Linked DNA regions of Homo sapiens. The protein of the gene in region 1 interacts with the protein of each later gene in a pairwise test. Each region holds a gene or a part of one and is shown on either strand. Other genes may lie near its edges. The genes, in order: VSIR, SLC35B4, CNIH3 and CLRN2.

Region 1 (7,000 bases):
GGGTCCCAGCCTGCCGCCGAGGGTCCTGGGCTCTAAGGGCAGGGAAGGGGCATCTGAAGGAGGATGTGGCATTATATTGGTTCTGGGCAATGCCCCTGGCTGGGGCAATGAAAAGGATGTATCAGTTTGGATTCTGTACATAGTTCTAACCCTCCTTCCCTCTCTGCTAGACCCACAACAGCCTGACATGCCATTTAAAATAAAAATACCACTGGCCGGGCGTAGTGGGTCACACTTGTAATCCCAAGACTTTGAGAGGCCAAGGCAGGAGAATTGCTTGAAGCCAGGAGTTCAAGGTCAGCCTGGGCAACAGAGGGAGACTCCGTCTCAAAAACAAATAAATAAATAAAAATAACACCAACGCATAATAATTATAGCTATCCCTCAGATGTCTGCAGAGGGCATTAGAGCTCACATCTTGTGTTCTCATCTTTCCCTCATCTAGTCCTTTTGCAACCCTGCATTGTAGCCAATAGTTTTCTCACTGCACAGAGGAGGAAACTGAGGCTCATACAGTTAGATAGAAACGCGGCCTCTATCCAATATTCTGTTTTCAAAAGCTCATGGTTTTGAGGGTCAACCCAATTAAATGCTGGAGGATTGGGATAAGGCAAAGTGGACCAGGGAATTGCTTCATTTGCTTGGTGAAAAAAACCAAACAGAACTAGACAGTTTTCTAAGTTTGGCTGGAAGGACGTGCATGGATGAGATGACCTTTCATATACTCTCTGTCCCGGTCCCTCAGACACTGGGTTTTCCCATTTTCACACTATCTTGCCTAGGACACCCTTTCTACTGGCTGAAATCCTATCTATGCACCAAGTCCAAAGACTCTCCCTCCTTCAGGAAGTCCCTGACTGTCCCCAGAAGGCTGTTTCCTCCCTCCTCCAAGTGCCCTGAGGGCTGGCATTGGATTGCCTTTGCCATGGGGTTCTGCTGTCGGGAATGCAGGCCTCGTCTGCTCAAGGGGAGGCCATGCATTCAGCATGCAGGTGAGATGCAGCACCTGGCCCAGGCCTTGCACACGCAGGTGCTCTCTTAGTGCTCCCTGGCAAGGATGGGAAGGCATGTTCAGTCCTAGGAGTAGGAAGGGGCAGAGGTGTTGATGGCCCCTACAGAGCGGCCAAGGACAAGGAGCTGCTGTTCGAAACAGCCTTCCTGCTCCCCAACCTGCCTCCCACCCAACAGGTTTTGCATATACTCTACTGGGAAGAGGGACACACCCGACTGCATCACTGCCCTCCAAGTCTCTCCCTGCCCTGTCCAGCATCCAGGAGCACCCCTAGTTGGGGAAGCTTCTGTGACTCCCCCTACAACAGCCTAGGATGGAGTGGGGTTTGTGAACAAATGCAGAAGGCAGTCTTAGGGAGGTCAGCTGACATGCCCCTGGCCTGTGGCTGGGAAGTAGCAGAGGCTAAGGTTCTTCCCCGCTCTGGGGTTGCCAGGAGTAGCACTGGATCAGTCAGGTGACAGGGCTCTCCTCTCTCTGAGCAGGTCCGGTGGCAGCCTTCAAGGTCGCCACGCCGTATTCCCTGTATGTCTGTCCCGAGGGGCAGAACGTCACCCTCACCTGCAGGCTCTTGGGCCCTGTGGACAAAGGGCACGATGTGACCTTCTACAAGACGTGGTACCGCAGCTCGAGGGGCGAGGTGCAGACCTGCTCAGAGCGCCGGCCCATCCGCAACCTCACGTTCCAGGACCTTCACCTGCACCATGGAGGCCACCAGGCTGCCAACACCAGCCACGACCTGGCTCAGCGCCACGGGCTGGAGTCGGCCTCCGACCACCATGGCAACTTCTCCATCACCATGCGCAACCTGACCCTGCTGGATAGCGGCCTCTACTGCTGCCTGGTGGTGGAGATCAGGCACCACCACTCGGAGCACAGGGTCCATGGTGCCATGGAGCTGCAGGTGCAGACAGGTGAGGGCATCCTGCACGTGACAGCCTGGCGTGTGTGGAGGGCTGCCTGTCTGATGGTGTGACCATTCATGACACTGTGCTGGGCAGAGTGTGAGGCTGCATGGGTAACACTGGCACTCCAGGGAGTGTGTGGGTGAGATGGGGTGGTCAAGGGTGTGTGGAGTGTGGGTTTGTAGTTAGCTGGAGTGATGGAGAGGGAGGGTGTACCTGGCTCCATTTGTGACAGTGAGACTTTTTAATGTGTGAGGCTGTAGGTACCTGGGCTGGGAGTGTGACTGCTCATGATGACATCATGGCTGCTGTGGGTATAGGCATCAGTGGGACTGATTGGTGCCCTGGGGCATGACTCAGTGGATGGCTGAATGGCTGTTGGAGAATATATGCGTGTGTGTGTCTGTCTGTTCAGGTGAGAGTGCAAGGGCCCATGGTTCGGATAGAGGTGTGGGCACCAGCGGGTATTCACATGCCCCTGGGAGTGGCATGAAAATGGGCAGGGTGAGAACATGCCAGGGTGTGTGTGGGTGCACACGTGTGCAGGCTGCCACTGGGCCAACACTGCCGAGTAGGCACTAGCGTGAGAACCTGGGGCAGGAGGGGGACACTGGCCTGGACAAGCCTCCCTGGCCTCCTGGGCCTGACACCCACCTAATGGCCCTTCTGTTTGTTCCCACAGGCAAAGATGCACCATCCAACTGTGTGGTGTACCCATCCTCCTCCCAGGATAGTGAAAGTAAGGGACCAACCTCTTGCCCCTTTTGGGTTCTCTGTTTTCTTCTGTCCTCATCCTGCACCCAGACCCTGTTTGGAACTCTGGCCTCATCACCCCAAGCCCTCAGAACCCCCCGGTCCTCCTCCTTTTCTGCTGCTGCACATCCCTTCTGCTTCCTCCTTGGTGCAATCCCCAGAAGCCCACTCTCCTTCCATCTGCTCTGGAGTCTCTGCTCCTCTTGACTCTCTGGAGTGGCTGTGCCTTGGCAGTGACCTTTGGCCAGGGCAAGTGCCTCATGACAGGTACTGGGTGCCCCAGGCAGCTAAGTGCCGCCCTGCCCACCAGCCCCCTATGGCTTGGGAAGGCTGGGGGTCCTCTTGGCCTAGAATTAAACTACTTCAGATTTCTGTGTTCTGTGTTTCTATGTTCTTCAGATGTTCTCTGTTGCAGGGGAGGGAGGAGGAAGAGGTTCAGGAAGGGGAACAGAACTACCTTTCCTGAGTTCCCACTGTGCTGGGCACTGGACTAAGTCTTTTTAAGTATTATTATCTCAGGGATATATATATATATATATGTGTGTGTATATACATATATATACACATATATACATACATATATATGTATATACATATATATACATACATATATATGTATATACATATATATACACATATATACACACATATATATGTATATACATATATATACACACATATATATGTATATACATATATATACACACATATATATGTATATACATATATATACACACATATATGTATGTATGTGTGTGTGTATATGTGTGTGTATATATATGTGTGTGTGTATATATATGTGTGTGTGTATATATGTGTGTGTGTGTATATATGTGTGTGTGTATATATATGTATGTGTGTGTGTATATATATGTGTGTGTGTATATATATGTGTGTGTATATATATGTGTGTGTGTATATATGTGTGTGTGTATATATGTGTGTGTGTATATATGTGTGTGTGTATATGTGTGTGTGTGTATATATATGTGTGTGTGTGTGTATATGTGTGTGTGTGTGTGTGTGTGTGTGTATATTTTCTGAAACACGGTTTCACTCTGTTACCCAGGCTGGAGTGCAGTGGCGCGATCTGGGCTCACTGCAACCTCCGCCTCCCGGATTCAAGCGATTCTTCTGCCTCAGCCTCCCGAGTAGCTAGGATGAGATTACAGGCGTGCACCACAATGCCTGGCTAATTTTTGTATTTTTAGTGGAGCTGGGGTTTCACCATGTTGGCCAGGCTGGTCTCAAACTACTGACAAATGATCTAACTGCCTCGGCCTCCCAAAGTGCTGGGATTACAGGTGTGAGTCACCACGCCTGGCCTCAGGAATTTTTTTTTTTTTTGAGAAAGACTCTCTCTCTGTCACTCAGGCTGGAATGCAGTGGTGCAATCACAGCTCACTGAAGCCTCAAACTTCCAGATGCAAGTGATCTTCCTGCTTCATTCTCCCAAGTAGCTGGGACTACAGGCACGCATCACCATGTCTGGTGAATTTTTAAAAATTATTTTTGGGGTTAGGTGCGGTGGCTCACGCCTGTAATCCCAGCACTTTAGGAGGTCAAGGCAGGCAGATCGCTTGAGGCCAGGAGTTCGAGACCAGCCTGGCCAACAGGGTGAAACCCCATCTCTACTAAAAACACAAAAATTAGCCAGGCATGGTGGTGCACGCCTGTAGTCCCAGCTACTCAAGAGGCTGAGGCAAGAGAATCGCTTGAACCCGGGAGTCAGAGGTTACAGTGAGCCGAGATCGCGCCACTGCACTCCAGCCTGCTGATAGAGCAAGACTCCATCTCAAAAAAAAAACAACCCAAAATTTGCCTGGCATGGTGGCAGGCATCTGTAATCCCAGCTACTCGGGAGGCTGAGACATGAGAGCTGCTTGAACCTGGGAGGCAGAAGTTGCAGTGAGCCGAGATCACACCACTGCACTCCAGCCTGGGTGACAGAGCGAGACTCTGTCCCAAAAAATCAAAAAAATCACTTTTGGTAGAGATGCACTCTCGCTATGTTGCCCAGGCTGGTCTTGAACTCCTGGGCTCAATTGATCTTCCCACCTTGACCTCCAAAGTGCTGGGATTACAGGTGTGAGCCACCATGCCTAGCCTCAGGGAATTCTTATAAGAACTCTATGAAGTAGGCATCACCATCTTCTCTGTATCCATGGAAAGAGAGGCCTAGAGATGTATGCTAACTTGCCCAAGCTCACATAGCCCAGGGTAGCATAGCTGGGATCTGGCTGCAGGCCTGCTTAGCTCTGCATACTCACCTTCTTCCCAGCTTGGGGCAGTGCAGTGGGTAGCAGTTAGCCCCCCGGTGCTTGCCAGAGAGGTGCCCTACAGGGTAAGAGGGCACTGCCCTAAGGGTGCCTGGCGCTGAGAGGTTGGGTGAGAATACCCAGCAGCTTGGAGACAAAATGCAAGGGCACCTCCCTCTTCTGAGAAGAGGTCTTGGCTTCCACACCCCTCTATACCCTGTATGTGTCAGACATCCAGTGGGGACCAGCCCCTGCTAGGCCCTGGAGATACAAAGGCATCCAGGAGGACATGCACGAGGACCTAAGCCGGAATGGGGATCAGCTAAACCACGGACCCAACAAAACCCAACTCAAAGGCTACAGTGACTTTTTACTCAGCTACCCTTTTTTCAAACCAACAAACAGGCCAAGAGCAAAATTAGAACATGCATTTTGGTCAGAGCCATGTTGGTCAGGCTGGTCTCGAACTCCTGGGCTCAAGTGATCTACCCGCCTTGGCTCCCCAAAGTGCTGGGATTACAGGATTGAGCCACTATGCCCAGCCCCAGTGCCAGCCTCTTAATGTTATCCTTGGGAAGTAAGAGTGTAGCTTGACTATGAAATAACATGAAAGTACAAGTTAACCTGAGGTAGGGGAATGAGACTAGAGAAGTTGGTGCCCAAGGAGCTCCTGCATTGCTGAGGGGCTGTGGTTTCTCAGTGAGCTCAGAGAAGGGGTCTAGGCAGCTCATCTCCCTTTGAACTTCTTCCCACCCCCCAGCGCAGCAGAATGTGCTGTCTGCTTTCACCCAGCTTCCTCCCTGGGAAACCAGGCAGCCCAACCCTCAGCAGCCGAACTCCCTCCTCCATATATCCCCGTGGGCTACCAGGCAGGCCCTGGACAAAGGCCGCCTGAGCAGGCCAGGCCCCTCCCATCCCACCCTGCTGTGTCAGGGCCTGGCACACTCCTTAGTGCGGTGTCGGCAGCTACCTCTGCCAGCGCCTGATCACCTTCCCAGGATAAGCCTGGCTCTGGATGGTGAGTGAGTATGCCTGCCTTCCCCTGTGAGTGCCAGCCCAGGCACTGGCCACGCTTGGGGGAAGGGGTGGGGAACTGTGGCGAGGCTGAGCTCTGCAGAGATGCCTACGGCTTCAGAAAGCAGCTGGATCCACAGACTTGTCCCCAAACCTCTGCGCCCCTCTGCCCCAGCCTCAACTCAGCCCAGATCGTAAGGAAGCCTCAGGCTCTCAAAGTGAAATTAAGTCCTGATCTGATAGAGGGTCCACATAGGGGAAATCTCTACCTGGGGATAGAAGTTAGGCAGGGATATCTGGCCAAGCTCACCCTCCAAAGGCAGATAGGGAACAGGTATCAATGAGCACCTGGCAAAGCTCACAAAATGTTGCTTACTAGCCGTCCAGAGGAGACCTGCTTTGATCACTAGAAGAGAGTGCTTTGCAACTGGCTTCTCAAATATTGCCCACAATAAGGTCCTTTGATGGGGGTTTTGAAATACTGAGGTGTCTGGGTTATAGAATGTCTTTACTTTCAATATTCCACGTCAAAATGCAGCCTTGCTAAGATCTGCAGGGAACCTGCTGTAATGTGGAGCGGAACTTGCTTTGTAATTAGCATAGCAACTGTTCCTGTACCAGTGGGTACTTCTAAAGTGACTGAAAACAGTTTGTTCTCATTTGCAGTATGAACAAACCTCCTGAAAGCTTGTTTACGCTGTCGGATTGTAGAGCAAAACAAAAACAGCCTTTATTCCCAAACAAATAGCGGAAAGGCAACATTTAGACCACAGCCATTTACCTCTCAGAGCTCTTTGGGGCGAAGTTGACACTGTGACAAGGTATCCCAGCCCATCTTTTGGCCCTGGGAAAGGCTAAAATTGGGAAGGAAATGCGTTTATGTTGGTTGTGGTTCTGAGGGCACGTCTGTTCCCAGCTAAACTCCTGCAGTCAGCAGATGCCCTGAAATAAATCAAACCTCCTCATGCTGTTGGGACAGCGAAGCTTCGTGTACACCTTTTTGGAGGGCAATTTAGCAATAGCCTAAAAGAAAATGCACATACTCTTTGGCTCAGCACTTT
Region 2 (7,035 bases), on another chromosome or scaffold:
AGACACAATTTAATTTGCTTTGATTGATCGTGATCATCTCATGTAGTGAACTGTGACTTGGAACCCACCAGAGCATCCCATCAAAACTGCTTCAGTCTGTGGGTCTCAAAGCCATCTACCAATAATACACCTTCAACTACATCAGAGAATATTAATAGTTCACTTGAAGTAACATTTTACAACTTAGGAATTTTCACGTTCCCAGGTTCAGGAAGTTGCTTACATTATAAAACAAAGCCTCCTTGGAGTGTTTCCCAAATCGTTTGTAGAGAGTCTCTTGGAATATCCCCATCCTTGCTGACATCAGAAGAGCAAAAGTCAATGCCCCAATACCTAAAAAACAAACATCAGGTGACAAGATGTCTGCATTTGTTCATTTCCAGATGTTTTTCTTGAAGAACATTATTGTTTAAAGTCCTGCAAATATTATGAACTAATTGTAGAACATGTACAAAACTGTAAAAAGAAATAAAAATACATTATTACCATCTAGTCCTTTACAGCTTTCTACATCTTCTTATATATTCATTTATGTAAATTTTTTTACACTAAGACAGGATCAGATTGCATATGGAATTTTATATCTTGCTTTTTTCATGAGCTTTTGCCTGGAATTTTGCTTCAAATCAGTCATTAAAATTTTTTAAATAGAATGCTTTTAATGACTATGATATGGATGTAGCACACTTAAATGTATGAGGATGGTTATTTCCAATTATTTCATTATTAAAATCAATGTACATCCTTGTATACAAATCTTTAAACAAATGTTGATATATTTTAGGATAAACCCTCATAAGTGGAATTACTGAGTCAAAGGCTGTGGACATTTAAAAAATACAATACACAATATTTTTCCATAAATGCTGTGTCCATTTATACCCAAACTATTTTTATTATATAAAAATAGTTGTTTTACTGTACCCTCAGCAGCAATGAGATAACCATTTATCATCTTGCCAGTATGATAGGCCAACATAAAAAGGTATTGCATGGGTTTCATTTGCATTTCTCTGATTACTAGACTAGTGAGGCTGAACCTAAAATTGTTGGGTGCTACTATTTCCCCCATGAACTATATGTTCATATCCTTTGCAAATTTTTCTTCTGGAGTATTTTTCTAATAGCACATAAGGATCTTTCTATGTTACAAACAGCAACAAGGGATAAAGTCTCAAAGCCAAGAAGCAAGGAGAACACAGTTCTTTCACTGCTATTTCTCTTCCAATTGGTCAGTCTCAATCCGTTATTGTTGTCATTGAAAGCCCTTGGAACGAGTCTCAGCTCCATATCAAAAAATGTGAGAACAAAGCTCTACAGGAGCTGCCTATTTAATTCCACAGAGATCCTTGTATTTTTAAAAATTCCCCAGGAGATTCTGATAATCAGTCAGGTTTGGGAACACTGCCATATGGAACAGCTAACCTCTGAAGAAAATAAGTCTTTAGAAATGAGTCCCTCGGAAATTTAAAGAGTCAATTGCTCTAACGTGCCCTCTTGCAGAAGCTTCAACTTGGCAGACAGATCGTGAAGAGACGGATGACATTCAAAGGATGTGATGTGCAAGTAGACACACACTTTTCTTTCTACACCAGTGGCAACCAAGAAAAACATGGATCCATGTTGTAGAACATACTGCCATGAATGTGGGGGCATTTTCTTTTTTTCATTTCTTGAACGCTAAGGCTCAGAGAAATATGATCCCAGGTGCCTCTCTTCCATGGCATAATTTGTTTAGCTGAAGCTTCTTGCCAAGAAACATTTCTCTTAGGAGAAAACTCAGCAAACACAACTGCAGAGGCAATTAGCTTTATTATAATTATTGTACTTGCCTAGTAACCACCACACAAATGCCTGGAATCCATCATTCTCACTCAAGCTGGACTGGGAAGTCTAGGAAATAAGAAAATAAACTAGGTACAGAGAGCAGAACTACGTGCAAGGTGCCGACATACAAGGGAAACATTTATGTTACCCATTTCCCTCCCCTCTTCTCTTTCAAAATCTTTGTATTACATAAAAATTTGAATTGTATTAATTGCCTGGTAACTGGGCCCCAATAGCAAGTAGTGAACATAAAATAATTTGTGAGCTTCTTACCACCTGCTTTGCTGACATAAAAGTGCAAATAAATATCCCCACAGACACCAGGGCAATGGAGGTATATTTGAATATACTGTATCTGCAAAAAAGAAAAAAAAGAAGAAAAACACCTTAGGAAAGCACAGATATGAATTTCCCAGTGATATTTACAGTCAGATGGTGCATGAAAGTACAAATCACTAAAGTATGACAGACAGGATTACTTTCCAGCAGAGTCCACAGAAGTATGCATATGAATGAATCAGGATACTGACTAGTTTCTAACCAACACTTTTCCTTAGTACTGTTTAGTCTGTCTCCAACAATTTGCTGACCAATCGATTATTTCATCAGGAGACAAAAACAGAAATAGACCAGATGTGATGTTGCATTCTGCTCTCAAGAGTCCAGATGAAAGGCTGACCCAGTCCTTACTAGGATCTGTTGCTTTTCCTGTCTTTAGGGGGACCAAATCTGTGTCCTAAGACACACTGTGCGAGTGGAAAAACAGGCTATCAGGTGCAAGCAGCAGGATTCAATGCTCAGAAAATAATCCAATCATCCATTCTCTGGGGGAGGCTTGTTTTTTTTAAATCTCTGAATGACTTAACATTGTTTTAAAATGTTGGCATAGTTGGATAAGGGGGAGGATATTCAGATTATAGAACTATGGGCTGTAATAACAGTAGCATTTCACATTAGCTAGTATCATTAGCACCCTCTCAGATTTTTGGTGATCAAGCAAAAGGCCTCAGGCAAGGATTAAAAGAAATTAAGAAGATGAACCATCCCAGGTTTTCTACTCAAATACATAGTATTGTCCTGGTCACAGTACCTCATAAAAGGCCAGCAGAACTAGCTAATGGGCAGAGAAAGGGACTAAAAGGGCCAAGAGGACCACGCTAGAGAGCGGTTGGGGAGGAAGCAGGTACGAGCGGAGGTACGGTAAAAAATAATGAACCTCTTCAGTCTGCAAAGATCACGCTGAAGAGGTTTACAACTGAGGCCAAAAATAATAATAAAGGCATGGGTAAGGTGAATATAAATTTGATATTCAAATCCTGGAATGAGGAGCACACTATGAACTTGAGGGGCTTCTACCCAAGATAAAAGGAGATAAGAAGTTACTAATTTACTCTGTTGGAAAGTTAACTTATGGAAATTCCTGCTCAATGGGAAAGAGATACACACAGAAAAGAGAGTCAAAAGGCTTAGATAGATGCAAGATGACACACTCAGAACAAGTTCTTAAGGGCAACAGATGCTTGAGAAAGACCCGTAACATTTTGGGGCACTATCAGGAGAATACAATTTCTCTTATAACATGTTCTTTTGTATCCTTGTCATGAGCCAGAATCAAAGGTTGGGAAAGAGCACAGGCCTGTCCCAAGGCGAATTCCACACTATAAGAAGCATGATGATCACTTCAAATGTAATAAACCTGACCATCATATGTATATATATATATATGTTTAAATGCAGAGAACCAAGAAGAAAGAAATCAACTACAGTAGTACTTTTCAGGGAATTCATAAGCCTCAGGAGATAAACGGTCCATGATATGAAGCCTAGTAGGACAGGACAATTGTTCTTTTTATGACACAGCCCTTAATACTTAAAAACTCTAGGTTCTCACATTCTGAATTTACAGCTACTTTCCAAGCATGTATAGAGAGCTTGGGGCTGGATATCAAATACATTGAAACGCTGCCATCAACTTGTATAATTTTGGTCTTAACAGTGAACTTTCCCTGATAAATTTCCCAAACTGTATGTGTTGTCTCTTGCTAACATCCTTCCTCCTTAGGAGTGAGGGGTGAACCTCAGAATGAAGGTGACAGACAAAAACTTTGAAAAAGCATCCCAGGTACTTCTGGTATTTCCTGCTCCTGTCCCCCCTGCTCCTGTCCCAAAGAGAGCCATTGGTGATGGTCACAAAGAACAGTCCTGAACCTTTCATTCCATCTTCTTGGCTATTTGGGCCTTTTTAGGAATTTCCTTTTTAATATGTACAACCATTCCTTAGTTTGCTATGCTGTACTGATAAGCATCTTCTAGGGCAGAAGTATCCCATGGAATTTCTGAGATGTTAGAAATGTTCCACATCTGGGCTCTCCAACGTGGTCACTACCAGCTCTGTGAGTCTACTGAGCACTGAAAATGTGACTAGGAGTTTGAGACCAGCGGGGACAACATGGCGAAACCCAATCTCTACCAAAAATACAAAAAAGTTAGCCGGGCATGGTGGCACATGCCTTTGGTCCCAGCTACTTGGGAGGCTGAGGTGGGAGGATCACTTGAACCTGGGAGGTGGAGGCTGCAGTGAGCCGAGATCACACCACTGTATTCCAACCAGGATGACAGAGTGAGACCTCGTCTCCAAAAAAAAGAAAAAAAAATGTACGTGACTAATGAAACTGAGACACTAAATATTTAATTTTCTTTAATTTTGAAAAATGTAAATAGTCACACGTGGCTAGTGGTGACCATACTGCACAGTGAACCTCTCTATCATCTTTGTAAGTTGGCTTCGCAGGTTAGTATGACACTAAAATTCAGTGATGCCAAGAGCTATTCAGTTCGACACAGAGACACCACAGGTGTGGCCTCTTACCTGATCAGCTGCTTCAGGACATTGCATGATTGGGCCTCACTGGTAAAGAACTAAGAAAAGAGGTAGATGGCCAGAAGCAAACTTATCACTATTTTGGGACAAGGAATCCAGGTGACTAGCTTATGGACAGGGGCTCAGGGTATCATTTCCATACACAAAATACAGAAGTGTATTGTTTACCTTTTCTTCAAAATGATAATTCCTAGAATCATGTTGGCAATTAGAGAACCCTGCAAAAGGAGACAACAGTAACAGAGAGGTTTAGTGCACTAGGAAAAAAACAACGTAATTCGAGAGAATAGGAACATGGGCAAGGGGAAAAAACATGGAATGAAGGAAGCTAGGATGAATAATTAGTAAAGATTTAGTTGTTCTTATGATGGCAAAAGTATAAACCATAAAAATCTACTATGATGGCCGGGCGCGGTGGCTCACGCCCGTAATCCCAGCACTTTGAGAAGCCGAGGTGGGCGGATCACCTGAGGTCAGGAGCTTGAGACCAGCCCGGCCAACATGGTGAAACTCTGTCTCTACTAAAAAATACGAAACTTAGCTGGGCGTGGTGGCAGTTGCCTGTAATTCCAGCTACTTGGGAGGCTGAGGCAGGAGAATCCCTTGAACCCGGGAAGTGGAGGTTGCAGTGAGCCAAGATCGCGCCATTGCACCTCCAGCCTGGGCAACAAGAGCGAAACTCCGTCTCCAAAAATATACGTATATATATATATATTTAAAAAACCTTTTAAAGATGACAATGAGAATAAAAAGGATCAATTCTCAATATAGTCATTATCAGCCCTCCTTATAGGCATGTTTTGCATCCCGTGAATACTGTATTTTCATATTTGTTTGAAAAAAATTTGCATATTTGTGGACCCACGTGGTTTAAACCCATGTTGTTCAAGGGTCAACTGTAATTGCTCAGTGCTGAAGCCAGGGCTAGCACGAATAAATGATATCACAGACTTATTTTTGTCAAAATTTCCATCACCTAATTTATAAGAGCTTTTAATAAGTTTCTCCCCATTACCTGCACCTTCTACCCCCGACCAGTTTTTTCTTCCCTCAGACGGAGTTTTGCTCTTGTTGCCCAGGCTGGAGTGCAATGTTGCGATCTTGGCTCACCACAACCTCTGCCTCCCAGGTTCAAGCGATTCTCCTGCCTCAGCCTCCCGAGTAGCTGGGATTACAGGCGTGTGCCACCACGCCCAGCTAATTTTGTATTTTTAGTAGAGATGGGGTTTCCCATGTTGATCAGGCTGGTCTCGAACTCCCAACCTCAGGTGATCCACCCACCTCAGCCTCCCAAAGTGCTGGGATTACAGGCCTGAACCACTGTGCACAGCCCCTGACCAGTTTTAATGGAAAAAGTCATGCAAGGATCTCTCTGTTCTCTAAAAAGGTGACAATCAATCAACAGGTGTTTATTGAAAGTCCACTATGTTTTCAATGCTTTGAAGGTCACCTTATTATAATTGCTTTGGAAACTCCCTTCAGGAACAGTACAATCTCACAAAAATCTCAGACCACATGGAAATGTTATCACCACAATTATCAGCCTTTTTTGCCTGGAGTGCTTTGGGAGAAACCCTACCTTCATCAAGAATTTCCCTTTATTATCTCAAGTCTCTGCTTAAAAAAAAAAAAAAAAATCAGAAAAGACAAGTATCTCTTTCATGTTCTAGAAGTAAATGTACTTTTATGAAAGAAGAAGAGATAAGAAATAAGTTAAATAACATTAATAGCATGTTTGAATATAAAATCAAAGAGATGAGGGAAAATGAAGGTAAAATCTGTTTCCTAGGGAAAATTTAATTTTCTTTTTATTAATCACTCATTAGACCTCAGAAGAATAAAAGTAAACCATCCACTTTGAGATTTCTCTTTTTGCCTTCTCAGATGAAAGCCACCCTTGCTCACGCATTCACAAACCTATTCTTCTACCCAAGACCACTTACTACAAGAACCTTCTAGTTCTGCCATATATTCAATCGATCTACTTAACTATACTTTTCAGAGGAACATATACACGTGATCCGGCAGCACTTACGGATCTAAATATCATATGCAGGGGCATGGCAATGTTGAGATTCAGGGCATAGTTGTTCACCACGCTCACGGTGAAGAACATGGTCACCATTATGGCATAGTACCTGAAATGCAGACAGAACAGCTCATCAAACAGAATCTAGGATTTCAAGAAAATCAAGTATAGGAAATATATATTTTTGGCTAAAAAGGCATTTTGCCTGTTTCCTCTGCGTTGCAAGATTGCATCACTATTATGCCATGTCAACTACTAAGTACATATCAAAACGCTTCACAAAGCCAGACTAACATGG
Region 3 (7,035 bases), on another chromosome or scaffold:
AAGCACCTACCAGATGGGCTGGATTTTCTGGGACAGTTATAATTTCATAGATTCTATTCCCTGCTAAGACCATGTGTCAGATCATGTGATTTTTGGCTTTTTGTAAAATAGAGTCACCATATGGACACAGGAGGCAGAGGTGGGGGAATATCTAAATAGTAGAGAAGGTATTTGCGCAGATAAGTTGCCTGCCCTTGACCCTTTGCTGCCAGAGCATTGGACCCCAAAGTGTTTTATCATTTTTATTGTACCATAAAATCTGGCTTGAATTTAGCCACACCTAAGACATGCACTCCTTCATTTAGAAAACATACGGGATACATAGTACACGCCAGGCATTGTGAGGGATTTCACGTTAAGTGTAAAGCAAAACCTTTACCCTTAAGGAACGTACATCCTAGTGGTGGAGGGAAATATGTTCTTAACAGACATATGAGGAATACTGGTAGGAGCATAGAGAAAGAAGCACTTAAATTAGACTCAAGAGTGACATTGGAAAAGCACATTCCAGGGCGAGGGCCCAGCATGTGCAAAGGCCCAGAGTTAAGAGAACACTTGTTGTGTTTGGGAAACAGTAGTTGCTCAGTGAGGTTGGATGTAGGGTTCTTGGAGGGAAATAAGAAGAGACAGGGTTGGCAGGCAGCTGAGAGTATGGTATGGAGGGCCTGAAATGATTTGATGGGGAAGGTGGAATTAATTTATTCTCTAGGTAATGAAAAATGATCAGAAGCTTTAGAAGAAGACAGTGGCATTACCTGATCTGATTTTTAGGAAGGTGGCCTGGGAAGCAGTGTAAAGGATGGGTTAGAGGGTGAAATATTGAGGATGAAATCCAATGAGGGGGTTATGGTGGGAACTCCAGGTGGAGAGGTGAGAGAGCCTTGACCCAGGTGGTGGGAGTCAGAATGGTGAGAGAACAAGAGAAGCTGTGGAGGTGAACTGGATAAGCCTTGGCCCATAATTGGGTGCAGGTGAGGGAGAGAAAGCCTCTAGGCTGCGTGGCCGGGAGGTCGATGGTGCCATTGACCAGGGCCAGCAGGGTAGAAGAAATCTCAGATTTAGGGAGGAAGGAAAAAGATTCGGTTACATCGAGAAGCCTCACTTTAAGTAAAGGCAATCTGCTCTCATCTGAATTAGAGAGAAGTCAAATAGAAGATCCAGGATTCACAACAACCAAGTGAGCTGGGTTTCATTTTCTGTGTTTGATACATGGGGACACAGAGACTCACAAAGGTTAAGTCAACTTAACCTGTGTTGCTCAGCTCGGACGTGGCAGGGCTGAGGTTACACCCCACCTCTGTACGAATTCCAGTCTGAGTCCCTGCCACCTGACACACTGCCCCAGGGGCTGGCTCTTCTCCTCCAGGAAAGGAGTTCGTCCCAAGGTCCTTCAAGTAGGGGGCTGTCAAGGCAGGGTATCAGAAATGTGATTAATGGACAAAACATCGATCAGGGCACTGCTTCGTGGGGCTAGCGCTTGTCCAAAAGGGAGGAAAAGGAGAGGCAGCCAGTGTCCGTAGACTAGGAAAGTTGATCTCTATGGAGGAAGGGAGGGGCTGCAATCTCCTTGCCAATAGGGACTTTGTCTTACCTTTTTTTTGAATCCCTGACAGGATCTAGTCTAGTTCCTGGCAATTAGTAAGTTCTCAGAACATGAAAGAAAAAAAAGAATGAGGAGGGGAGGAGTCCTTTAAAAACCAGAGCCCTTGTACACCCTTTATCCCCCTTTTTACTCCCCCTCCTTCCCAACAGGTCCAGACCAGTGACATTTCACATACAGAGAAAGTCCCCTCCTGCTCTGGCTCTTAGTTTGCTTAAAGGAAATAGAACTGTCTGCTGTTGACTCAGTACCTGTTCTTCCCAGGTTATTTGCATACATCGCCTCACATAATGGTCACAACAGCCCTTTGCAGTGGGCAATTCCATCCCCATTTCACCGATGAGAAAGTTGAGGCTCAGATGGGTTAATGACTGACCCAAGGAAAGTCAATGTGGTGACTGGTGACTGGCAGGGCCTTTGCTGTTTCCACGGAGCCACATGGCCACCCTGCCCTTCTGCCTCCACTTAATGAGGTCACCTGGGAATAAAACCACAGTGACAGCAAATAGCTTTTGAGATTGGCTCCCAGGAAGAGGAGAGATGAGTGGCCTGGAGGGCTGTGAGCTGGCAGTTGTCATCGAATCTGGCTTGTGATTTCTTTTCAGCACAGTGTCAGTGACAGATAACGTCAGTGCAATTCTCTGAAGGGGAAGGAGGAGGGAGCTGAGATTCCGGATCTGCGAGTTGCTACATTGCAGGATGTTCTTCAAAGCCAGTGTGATTAATCTCCCGGTCGGAGCCCTCTCCCTGGGCCCTTTACCACCATTGAGAACCACTGTCTGTCCCAGAGCCCAGGGAAGCCATTTATTTGCACTCCTGGCCTCTGGGTGGCTTTACCAGAATGACTGAAAAAGGAACTCACTGAGAGATTCCAGCTGTACTTTGTTCTTGGGCTCCGGCAGGAGGCTGTGGCCAGGTCCCTGGGGGCAGTGTCCTGGGGGCAGCGACCACTTCCCAAGGGACTCAGGAGGCTCAGACTCCTGCCCCAGGTCTCACCAAGCCTGACGGCTCCCCTCCTCAGGGGCTGTGGCCAGGTGAGCCTTGGGAACGTAGTATTTTGAAGTACACACAGTTCGCGTTAGCTGCTCCCCCTCCTCCTCTTTCCCACCTACGTTCTTTCACTCACCCAGCTGCCGTCCAGGGCACGCTGTCTCCCGACAGATGGCTGATGTTCTTTTTGAGTTCTAGGTCCCACTATCAAGAAGGAAAGCACCTGTAAACTGCTCTGCGCTCAAGTGAGAATAGGATGTCCCGAAGTATTCAGGATTTTCAATAAGGGTCTGTGTAAAGTAGTTTTAGGGTAGAATGGAGGTATGGTGGCATCCCAGCAGTGGTGGTATAGCCCTTTACCTCTGCCTGCACTTGTCCTGAGAGGCGGCTCTTCCTCAGACTCCTAGGCAACGCCAGGTGACACATTTCCCCTTCTGTTGGAGCAGCTTTGTATATGGGTGAAATTGCCATGATGCCAGTGGATTGGAGTATTTGGGGATTTACTACCTGCTGGAAGATAGTGGCTGAGCCACTCTTCAGCGGTGCTTCAACTGTGATTTGGGCAGAAGGCAGGCAATTGCTTGGCAGGGATTGCTCGACAGAAGCCCTGCATCGGAAGGGTTTGCCCAGGTTACGCCAGAAGTACCAGGACCTCAGAGACAATGATGTCCTCTCTCCCTGCAGGTATTTCCACTGTCCAGCAGATAGCTCAGAACTAGCCTACGACCCACCGGTGGTCATGAATGCCGACACTTTGAGTTACTGTCAGAAGGAGGCCTGGTGTAAGCTGGCCTTCTATCTCCTCTCCTTCTTCTACTACCTTTACTGGTGAGTATCTGCCCCTCCTGGTGGTTTTGACTCCTGCAGCAAAAGGAAGAGAATTTCAGGCTGGCCTCTGGGAGGCGTCCTTTGGGAGATGGCGTGCGAGGGTGGGAGTCATGGCCATTCAGGTGTAGTCCCAGCTGTCTGACTCTGGCTCAGGAGCAAGGGCTTCTGTATAAACAAGTAAGGGGGCAGGAGATCCTGCAGGAGGCCTTGCCTGCTGATCGGCACATCCTTAGGGCCACGCAGTGAAAACACCCTCTCAACATCCCTTTGGAGATAACTGGTGAAGTGCAGTTGGCTACTCCTTCTTCCCTATAGGGCTTCCTGCCTCTCACGACTTTGCAGCTCAGCCCAGCAGGTTGCCTGTGGCCACAGGGGCTCAGGCTCATCCTCACTGTCCCTTGCCCCAAGGATTCTTGGGAACCATAACAGAGGCCCCAAACTCCCCACCCCAGCCCCACAGTGGCTGTCACGGTTCATAAAGTGGCATTTTGTGTCGCTAAATGCTTCATTTACAGTTTTCCCAATATTACATAACACCATTCCAATTAAGAAAAACCTGCTGACTTTGCAGTCCTGTTTCAGGAGTGTCCCTTCTTTTCACCTCTCCGCTCAGAACATCCTAACTAAGCAGATAGCTATAAACAGACTGTCTTGTGGTTTGACACCACAGAGAGTGCCTTTTCCGCAAATGTCTCCTCCTCCTTCCTGCTCCTCTTTGGCTCATCTCTGGGGACTCTCACCTGTCACTTGCGATTCCATCATTACCTGTGGCAGGGCCATGGTGATCTCCAAACCTCCCGGTGATGTCTCCAAAAGGGCATGGTTGACAGCAGCCAGGTGAAGAGGAGGAGGGGTCGGGATGTTGGACTGCACGCCACCCCTAGGTTTGGATTGGGCTGTGGCAGGCCAGAATGTGGCTGCATTTGTCCAGCATTTTTTATTTTTTATTATTTTTTAATTTTTATTTAAAGATGGGGTCTCACTGTTTTGCCCAGGCTGGAGTGCAGTGGTGCCATCGCTGCTCACTGCAGCCTTGAACTTGGCTCAAGTGATTCTCCCACCTTAACCTGAGTAGCTGGGACTGCAGGTGTGTGTCACCATGCCCGGCTATATTTTTTTTTTTTAATTTTAAAATTTTTTGTAGAGATGGGGTTTCACTGTGTTGCCCAGGCAGGTCTTGAACTCTTGGGCCCAAGTGACCCTTCTGCCTCAGCCTCCCAAAGTTCTGACATTTAAAAATGAGCCAGGCTTTGTGCTCAGAGCTTTGTACGTATCGCTCAATTTATAAGATAAATACTATCCTCACTCACATATGAAAAATGAACTGAATCTGAGAAGTTAGATAATTTTCCTGAATTCCAGCTATTAGTGTCACAGCTGTAAGTAGTACATCTTGAGTCCGATTTCAAAGACTGAACTCCTTTTTCCTTTTTCTTTTTTTGAGGGTATCACTCTGTCTCCCAGGCTAGACTACAATGGCAGGATCATAGCTTGCTGCAACCTTGAACTCCAGGCTCAAGGGATCCTCCTGCCTAAGCCTCCTGAGTAGCTGGAATTATAGGCATGTACCACCATGCTCGGCTAATTTTTGTATTTTTCTGTAGAGACAGGGTTTTGCTATGTTGCCCAGGCTGGTCTTGAACTCCTGGGCTCATGTGATCTACCCGCCTCAGCCTCCCAAAGTGCTGGGATTACAGGCGTGAGCCACCGTGCCCAGTAGCTCTTAACTGCTGGCTATCTTAGAAAACCTCTAGAAAAGTCTTCATCAAAGTGTGGGGTAAGGAAGGGAGGAAGGTGTGCTTTTTAAAAATGCAGATTCCTGGGCTTATAGCTACCTATTCAAACTTTCCAGGGCTGGGCTCTGCGTTTTAAACAAGCTCTCTGGACAATCTTGGTGCACACCTTGGTGGCTCTGGAGCATTCTACTTGGTTCTGCCTTCCCTCCCCTTTACATCCCCAGTGTCCGCAGACTCTGTGGGGTGCTCTGGGATGTTTACTGCTCCAGCCTGCAGGGAGCCTGACGGTCTTTGAAGCCTCCGGAGATTTCTACGGTGCCCAGTGGGTTCACCTAAGTCTTTCTGACTCCAAGTCTGAACTATTTAACAACCAAAGGCTTGTCAGATGGGTTTCTGTCTTGGGAGACCTACAGAGTGTGGACAAAGCCGCCGTGGGCTTAGGGACTTGCCACCTTGGAGGTTAGGTTTTTTCCCTGCAGTGTGCTCAACCCTGCTTTCTTTGTGGAGCCACAGACTTCCCCTTCTGCAGAGTCATGGGCTGAGTGGCCTGTCCCCAGAGACAGCACTGTCTCTCCTCTAAGCCAACAGAATGAGACCATTGTTTTCATTAGCTCCTGCCCCTTTAGCCTGGGATCCACCTCAGTGTGGATGAAGACAGAGGCGAGACTTTCCCTCATTTCAGTTTTGTTGCAGTAACTGCTGGAGCCGAGGCGTCGCAGGGAAGAAGCCATATGAGTTCACAGGGAGGGAAGCGGCTGTGCGTGCTCCGCTGCGGGGGTGGGAGGGGGTGGGGTAGGGAGGTCTTGGCAGCTCCTCTCGGTTAGATGGGTGTGATTGTTCTGTAACCGAGTGTGTTCCAGACAGTCTGTTTGACTGTTTGTCCTCTAATTCATTACTTCAGTTTGGCCCTGCCTTCATGATACATGTGTTAATCACTCTGTTTCTAAAACAAAATTGGAAACAGTTCCTGCAGCCTCACTGGGACCCTGGGTGGCCGCCACGGGCACCCACATTCTTTGTTGAATCTGGCCCCTTGGTGCTCTTTGGGGCTGCTTAAAAGACTCTGTTTCTCCCACCTTAGGAGCTGCCAGCCCCTCAGATCCGGAGCTGGTGGAGAGCACAGCAGCGTCAGCGCAGGCCACCGTGGGAGGGAGGGAAGGGGACTCGTGTATGCAGAGCCATGTCTGAACTGAGCTCAGGGCTAGAGACCCACACAACAGCGGGGAAGACGGGGTTGATAGTTTATAGTTTGAGCTCCCTGAGGGGCTCCTGAGGACTTCGGAGAGGTTAAGAAATGTGTCTCAGGTCCCTGCTAATAATTAGCAACATCTGGCTTCAGAGCCTGTGCTCTTTCTTCTATCCTGTTTGAACCGCATGGCACCCATCACCCCACTTCTCAGGTTGCCTTGTGGACCAGGTGATATTTGAGGGTTGTGTTAGAAGGGGACTAGCTAATGCAGATACTAATACTAGCTAGTGAGCCCAGTGTGAACAGTGTCTGCTCTGTAGAAAGATTTTTTTCCGACCTGAAGTAGTAGGACCACCCTCCTGCGTGGTTATTCTGGATCATGCCTGTTCCTCCTCAGGTTTATTTCTCTCCATCTATGTTATTTATGATTTACTTGTTCCTTGACACTGGAGACCATGTTGGTTTCATTCACCTCTGCGTCTGCAGTGTCCTGGCCCGTGCCTGGCACTCACTGAATCCTCGTGGTTTGTTGTTACAGCTTAGCTGTATGCTTCCTCAAGGCAGGAATTGGGGCTGCACACTCACCATTTTCCCCAGCACTGAGAATAGTGTCTGGCATAACGAATGAAAGTGAGTAAACAAAGGTATCCACTTGAGGCTTAGTACTGTTATGCAAAAAGCACTGGCTTTGG
Region 4 (7,303 bases), on another chromosome or scaffold:
CAGGAAGGGAGTGGTGTGACTGAATTCTTCAGAAGCATATTCCTGTACCAGATTCTGAGCAACAAGAAAACCTTGGTAAATGTACACTATTTGGGTGATGGTTACACTAAAAGCCCAGACTTCACCACTACACAACATATCCATGTAACTAAACTGTACTTTTGCCCCCTTCATCTATAAAAATTAGATAGTTTTTTTTTAAAGAAAATCCTGAAAGCCTTTTTCTGGTCCCAGGGGAACTCTTGCCCAGGCTGCTGTGCTGCTGCTGCTAACTAAGCTCCCAGAACGCTGCCGCTGGCAGTGTCTCCACCGGGAAATTGCTGAGGCCTGCTGAGCGGCTGAGGTCAAGGGTCTTTGGCCATGTATCAGCTCTGCTCCGACTTGCCGCCTCCTGGAAATTGACACCTGACTATGCAAAGTAGTTGAAATAGTCTTTGCAGAGCAAAGAAGCCGTCAGCGTTTTTCCGTGCTGAGCCTTCAAACTGTCAGATCCAATGGGGCTAAAAGAACAGGGGTGGGTAGTAATAGTAACATTAATAGACAGCATTTAAACAGTTTTTACCAGGCGTCAGGTAATTTATGTGCAACGACACCAATTATCTCATCTAATCGTCCCAACTCTCACTGTCAGAATCTCCGTTGTACAAATGGGGAAACCGAGGTCCTACGGCGTTAGGTAATCAATACGCGGTCTCATGACTAGTAACCGGGACTGGGCTGTCTCATTCTAGAGCCTTCCTTCTACACTCTCTCTCCGTCCTCTCACCCCTGCTCCCGTTCCTCCCCTTTGGAATTCTCTCCCGAGTCACGCCGGACTTTTTGGGTCTGGCGGAGGCCCACGGAGCACCTCCTTGCACAGCAAAGGCCCAGCGCCCTGGGACTGGCGTGCGCACGCACTCGGAAACAGGAATAGACGCGTAGACCTGTGCGCGCACGTGCAAGCAACACGAGTCAGGGGGTGCACAGGGGCCCCCACCTTCCTCTAGACTGCCCCCCGCCGGGTTCCACACGAAAGCCCCCGGCCACCCCCGCGGAGACCCAGCAGCCCCAGCCCGCAGCATTACCCAGTTGCGGGCCCGAAAAGCCTGCACGCATCGAGAACCCAGAGCGCCCCTGCCGCCGTACACCAGCACCCGGCGCGCCTCGCCTGCAGCCGCCGCCGCCGCCATCCTGCTCCTGCCAGCCCGGCTCCCGCAGCTCCGAATGCCTCGAGCCGGAGCGCCGCGCCCCGCCCCGGCCGGCCAACCCCGCCAAGAGGGAACGCGCGGCGGCCGCGCCCCGCTCCGCGCCCGCTGCTGCCGCCTAGCGCGCTGCCACGCTCGGGGCGCCCCGCCACCCGGAGGGACTGTAACTTCGGCCAGGCCCTGCCCCTGGGACGGGGACATCGGCGAAGCCCCTCCTCCCACCCGCCAGCAAGTGCTGGGCCTCGGGGCGTGCAGCGAGCCGGGCTAAGGGCGAGGAGGGTGGAGAGCGGGTGTTTTACGAGCATTAATTTGTGAAGTGTAAGCATGTAAAATATAGTATAGTACAATTTTCGACCACTGTTTTGGCAATTTTTTATTTTTAATTGTGCATCAAAATAGAGATTTAAGTATTCCCACCTGCCAAAAAAACAGAAGAGGTCGCTCCGCTCAAGGAGCTGAAAGTCCACCGCCGAGACGAGACAAACCACACTAGGTCTTATTTCTTCTATCTAACCGTAAATTTATACCCATTAATCCAAATGGCCCTTTTACTATATGCCACCCATCGCCAGACACAGATCCTGGCATTTTCTCCCTTGTATATTAGTTATTTCTGCCCATGGCCTGTATCTTTAACACAGAGCCTCTCATCTACAGCACTACTGACATTTTGGGCCAGATAATTATTTGTGACAGGTGCTGCCCTGGGTACTGTAGGATATTTACAGCATCCCTGGCCTGCATATACTAGAAATCAATAGCAAACCCCTACCCCTCACTCATAAGAATCAAAAATATCTCCAGATTTAACAGTTGTCTCCTAGGGGCAAATTCATCACTGATAGAGAACCAGAGCTCTAACACTCTCATAACCTTCTTGATAGCAGAACCCTGTATTACATACATCTTTGTGTCACTTCCCATCCACATATAACCTTGTACACAGCAGACACAGATGTTTGTTCAGTAAACTTGTGCCAGGTAAAGCATGCAGAAATATGTCACTAGAGAAGAGGATGCAGCCAGCAGCACATTTTGTTGTCAGAAGCTTCATTATCAGAAATAGAACTGCTAGGAGGCTGGATGGAGAGGAGAGCACCATCTATTTAGTGCTCCTTATATCCAAGGCACTGCGCTAAGTGATCTGCCTGTGCTATTTCACTTTACTCCACACGATAATCCTATGCAGATTAGAAAGCTGAGGCATGAGAGTCACAGACACTTGTCTGGAAGAGTGGGAATTTGAACACAGGTCTTCAATAGCTAGAGTTCCACTTAACCACACCTTTGTTCAGCAAGACAAAGGCTTGTTGGGAATCAAGTGTTTCCCTTAGAGTTTTTCTGAAAACAATTGCTTAACCCTCAAAACACCAAAAGTTGACACAGGTCCCTCACTGACGGCAGAAATATGACTCAATGATATTTACGCAAGTCCTGACTTGTCAAAGCATGCTTAATGTTAAAATAAGAACGTGAACTAACATTATTGATCACTTAATGTGCCAAGCAGTCTTCTGAGCCTTTTATATGTATTCTGTTATTTTTTACCAGAAAAACATTTGCTGTTTCAAAGTCACTGGGATGAAGATGAGCTGTTGTAATTCAAAGACCTGAATTTCAGCCCCAGCACTGACATCCAGTTTTTCATGAGAGAAATGGCTGAAATCGTGCATCTCCTGTTTACCTTAAAGGGTTGCTGGAGCATCAGAGGTGAGCAAGCATATGGTCAAAGCATTTTGCATTTTGTACATGGTAAAGTGCCACTCATCTGTATATATAGTAAGAGACAGGATCTCACTCTGTTACTCAGAGTGGCATGATCATAGCTCACTACAGCCTTGAGCTCCTGGGCTGGAGCAGTCTTCCAGCCTCAGCCTCCAGTAGCTGGGACTACAAATACACGCCATCAGGCCCAACTATTTTTTTTTTTTATTTTTTGTAGAGATAAGGTCTCACTACATTGCCCAGGCTCAGAAATTCTCATTTTTATTTTCATTGTGGAGTGGCCACTGAAGTGAGCCCCAGTTGCGAGGAAGGAAACTGACATTTCCATTAATGTGTCCCTCTGCTTCCTTGACACTCTCCAAGTGAGATTCCTGGGACCCCTATTGGTTAACAGTGCAACTTCCTGAACCCCCCTTCAGGCTTCTGTGACCAACTAAGAAATTTTACTGCTCCACTTTTGCCCAACTTTGCTCCCCAGAGATATGGATAGAGTGACTGTTGCCAGTCTCACATGATGTTAAGTTGATATTCAGGAATAAGGTAAAAGTCAAAATGTCAAAGTCCACAGTATAAGATAGAAAGGAAAGAATATTTCATTCCTAGTATCTACAGATTAAAAGGAAAGCCTAGATCTTCCACTATTAGAAGAGATGAATACCCCAGCAGTGTGGCTACTATTTGCTAATACACTAGAAAAACACTTTTCTCTCCCATTTCAGATAACGTAGAAGGAGGGACGGGTGAGAGCAATGTTAAGTGTTGGATTCCAGGCTACCCCAACAGCCACAAAGTAATTCTAGTCACAGTTTACCCCCAGCAGATTCACACAGTGAGAAATTCATAAGGCCCTATTTACACATTTCAATATTAAAGCCCCAAGAACCGGGGTCATTTGATGGTATTAATAACAGTCCTAAAGATTCTGACAGCAGTGACATTTCAGAGAAAGAAATGCCAGGGCACCCATGCATCAGCGAGATCGACATTTGATACTGCGCATTGTTGGCAATATTCAAGTGCTAATCATTCTGTTTTTGTTTTCCTTCTAACACATGCATTTTTTGAGATTGGTTTGCGTCTCTTAATCTTCAGAGCTACCTGATTTTGCTTATTACTAACTCCTTTATCATTACGAGGTCCACACCAGGGCTATTTAAATACTTGAAACGAGGAACAGTTAAACAGTCTGCTGAAACATTAGTCTAGGAGGAGATATAAGGTTACTTCCTTCAGTAACACACTCCGCTACATAGTCAGGTGAAGATTGTCTCTGTAGAGGCTTCTGGATGTGGTTGTAGGAAGCATGGACTGTGCAAGCTTGCGCTGAAGGAGGACGAGAGGATGGACCTACAACCTTGAAACAGAGTGTTTGGAAGAGCTGACCTTGGAGCAGAGCATTGCCGAGTATCTGAAAGATGTCAATGACCCTCGCTGCTGCTCGGAGACCTTGGGGATGACCTGCACCCACTAGCATGCCTGGATGGTTCAAAAAGGCGTGGTATGGGCTGGCGTCTTTACTCAGCTTCTCCTCCTTCATCCTGATCATCGTTGCCCTGGTAGTGCCCCACTGGCTGAGTGGGAAAATCCTTTGTCAGACTGGAGTGGATCTGGTCAACGCCACAGACAGAGAGCTGGTCAAGTTCATTGGGGACATTTACTACGGGCTCTTCCGAGGGTGTAAAGTGCGGCAGTGTGGGCTTGGGGGCCGCCAATCCCAATTCACGAGTGAGTATATTGGGAGCATGAAAGCTGATTCTAGGCACTCATTTTTGTTAATGTGTAAGAGTGCTTATGTCTCATTGTGGAATTTGGCTGCTGCCTCAACGTCAGGCATAATGTCAAAGTCCACAGTGAGCCAAGGGTTCTGGATCCACATCAAAAAGATCTTTCCTTCCTTCCTTGCTTCCTTTTCTTTTTCTGTAGAGATGTATAGAAACATTAGAAATAAGGATTTGTGCATTTTTGCAGTTTACCTCTATTAATTATGACTATTAAAATATTGAGAGTTTACACGTGTCAGACATTGTAAGCACCTCACGCCACTTGTCTCCTTAAAGCCTTACAACAAAGTTATACAGAAGGAATTGTTAATGTTCCCATTTTCCAGAGGAGTACACTGAGGCTTGGAGAGGTTACATAACTTACCTGAGGTCACCCAGCCAGGAAACAGTAGAGCCGGACTCCAGACCCATGCCACATGACCACAACAAGTGGGTGGAGGCTGCCTGCAGAACTGAACCTTTGGGAAGCATGATGACCCTTTCCACATCTACTTTTGTAAAAGCTTCATAGTCTGAGAAAATGCAAAGGGGCACTGTGCTTGGGTTCTGGAATCAGACTACCCTGGCTGAAACCCCTACTGGAAAGTTTACTGGTGGGGAGACCTCAAGCAAGGCACTTGCCTGTTCTCTGTGAACGTGAGCGGGCACCGACTTTGGCTGGCATTCAGTGTAGCATCAGAGCTGCCCAGGATGTAAGCAGAGCAGTCTGCACAAACAGGAATCCAAGCTGGACTTAGGAACGGGCTTCTGGAAAGGAAAAAACAAAACAGGCAATATTCTGCAAGCCTTTTGAATCGATGAGATCACTGGTGAAAAGTGTCTGCACAAAACCGTAATTAATCAATACCATGCCAATGTAGGGTGATACAGAATTGTATTCATTCCTTGATTTCTATATTTCAGTATTGTAGTAGTTTATAGAAATCTGGCCAAGGTAAATGTCGTATTAAATTTATAAGGACAAAAAGCTGGAACCGTTGACAAATATAATACAAATTGTCATCATTTAAACACACAAAAATTTACATTTGTTATGTATATTCAAGATCAATATGTCTGGGCATATTTATATTTACCTAGCAATTAGATTAGACCCTGGATATTGAACAAATAGCTCCATCAAAATTATAACATAAAACTTGAAAACACACACACATAAACAAATAAAAAAAAGAAATGCTAAAAGCTAACCATGACAACTACATGGACTACTCGATTCTGAACTAGATGCTTTGCTATAAAGGATGTCTTCGGGACTTTAGGGGTCAAGAAAACTTCCCCTTTGCACTCTGAAGGTTCTCTAAACAATCTACTGACAAAAGGCAGATTAATAGGGAAAATGGCTTACACATTTATTAGCATGCATAGGGGAAAAATCACAGAGTGATTGTCCGCTATCTCAATGGGGTACAGGTGGTTGTATCCTCTTCATCTTAGGGGAAAGAGAGATGGGGAAGTGTGGATGATTTTAGGGGACTAGTAAATTATTTTTAGGGAAATTCAATGGGCTTAAAGAACATACAGTGAGCTGGGACAAAGTCTGTTGAGCCCACAGAGCAGACATTGGTTTGTGACAAAAGTCTGTCCAGCTGTGTTAACAGACTTTAGTCTTTCTTCCTGTGATATGGGTACAATTAATGAACACTCAGGGAAGGGACCAGAGGTCTTTTTCTTTGGTAGGTCTGGATGTAGGCAGGTAAGGGAATGTCAGAGAACAACCTCATCCTGTGCTTATGAGACAGACAAAGAATGGAGAGACACGAGGGAGAGGGGAGGCCAGAGAGACCTTGAGACTTCTTCACAAAGCTTCATATTTTAGGGGTGTTGGTTTCTGAACCCCAACAGGTAAATCGTTGAAACTTGAATGGGGTGAGAAGATTAAACAGCAGTCACATGCCAGCATTAACCTAATGACCAGACCCCTGCCATTCCCAGCTCACAGAAATGTAAACTGCTTCGAGTAGGAAGCTGCAAACAAATGCATATTTTGTTTGAGCCTTGGAGGAACTCAGTAAGTACTTCTTGCCTTCCTCCTTCTTCCTTCTTAGAAGGACACCAATGGGAAACATTCCCCTGGGTTCATCTAACGTGGTCTGGTCTGGAAAGCATCAGAACCCTGTGAGAAGCATAAAGGACATTTTATTCTTGTCCCTGAGTAGGAGCGTATTTGAGAAGGTTTTGTTTCCTGCTGCCCTGGGGTTGTCTCAGAGGAGGGTCTGTAAACATCCATTCGCAGTACCTTGGATGTGATTCTCTTTCAAAGCATTCACGAGGAGCCTGGGGCCAGGTTCCTCCTGTGCTTGGCTGGCTTTACCCCAGTACAGCTCAGGGACACTGATAGTGCCAGTCTAGTCTCCTTTAGATTTACAGCTTTTAATTCTAGCACAGTGTAACCTCGAGGCAGCTACGGGGTATATCAGAGCCTCCCACAACCAGGAGTCTGTTTCTCCTGGGGTCTCTTTCTGCCATTCACTATCCATCTGTAGAAAAAAAAAAAAATAATCCCCACAGTCGCAGATCAGTGTAGATGGGGACGTAAGTGAAAATGCTTTGCAAACTCTGGGATGGGGAGGTTTATTGGGTCTCGTTCACAAACAGCCACTTTTCTCATCA

The links.
Region 2: the proteins of VSIR (region 1) and SLC35B4 interact in binary tests that used the Homo sapiens proteins (3 or more experiments, as listed by UniProt).
Region 3: the proteins of VSIR (region 1) and CNIH3 interact in binary tests that used the Homo sapiens proteins (3 or more experiments, as listed by UniProt).
Region 4: the proteins of VSIR (region 1) and CLRN2 interact in binary tests that used the Homo sapiens proteins (3 or more experiments, as listed by UniProt).

Annotation. Positions count from the first base shown.
Region 1 is NC_000010.11:71,756,521-71,763,520, reverse strand, and holds part of VSIR (V-type immunoglobulin domain-containing suppressor of T-cell activation precursor), read left to right. Parts: intron 1-1,494; coding exon 1,495-1,923; intron 1,924-2,596; coding exon 2,597-2,653; intron 2,654-7,000.
Region 2 is NC_000007.14:134,299,929-134,306,963, forward strand, and holds part of SLC35B4 (nucleotide sugar transporter SLC35B4), read right to left. Parts: intron 6,847-7,035; coding exon 6,744-6,846; intron 4,927-6,743; coding exon 4,877-4,926; intron 2,183-4,876; coding exon 2,101-2,182; intron 1,894-2,100; coding exon 1,833-1,893; intron 334-1,832; coding exon 224-333; intron 1-223. UniProt on the Homo sapiens protein: Antiporter that transports nucleotide sugars across the endoplasmic reticulum (ER) membrane in exchange for another nucleotide sugar.
Region 3 is NC_000001.11:224,731,289-224,738,323, forward strand, and holds part of CNIH3 (protein cornichon homolog 3), read left to right. Parts: intron 1-3,274; coding exon 3,275-3,418; intron 3,419-7,035. UniProt on the Homo sapiens protein: Regulates the trafficking and gating properties of AMPA-selective glutamate receptors (AMPARs).
Region 4 is NC_000004.12:17,510,886-17,518,188, forward strand, and holds the start of CLRN2 (clarin-2), read left to right. Parts: upstream 1-4,279; 5' UTR 4,280-4,381; coding exon 4,382-4,634; intron 4,635-7,303. Other genes in the region: QDPR (dihydropteridine reductase), read right to left, coding at 1,065-1,169. UniProt on the Homo sapiens protein: Plays a key role to hearing function. Required for normal organization and maintenance of the stereocilia bundle and for mechano-electrical transduction.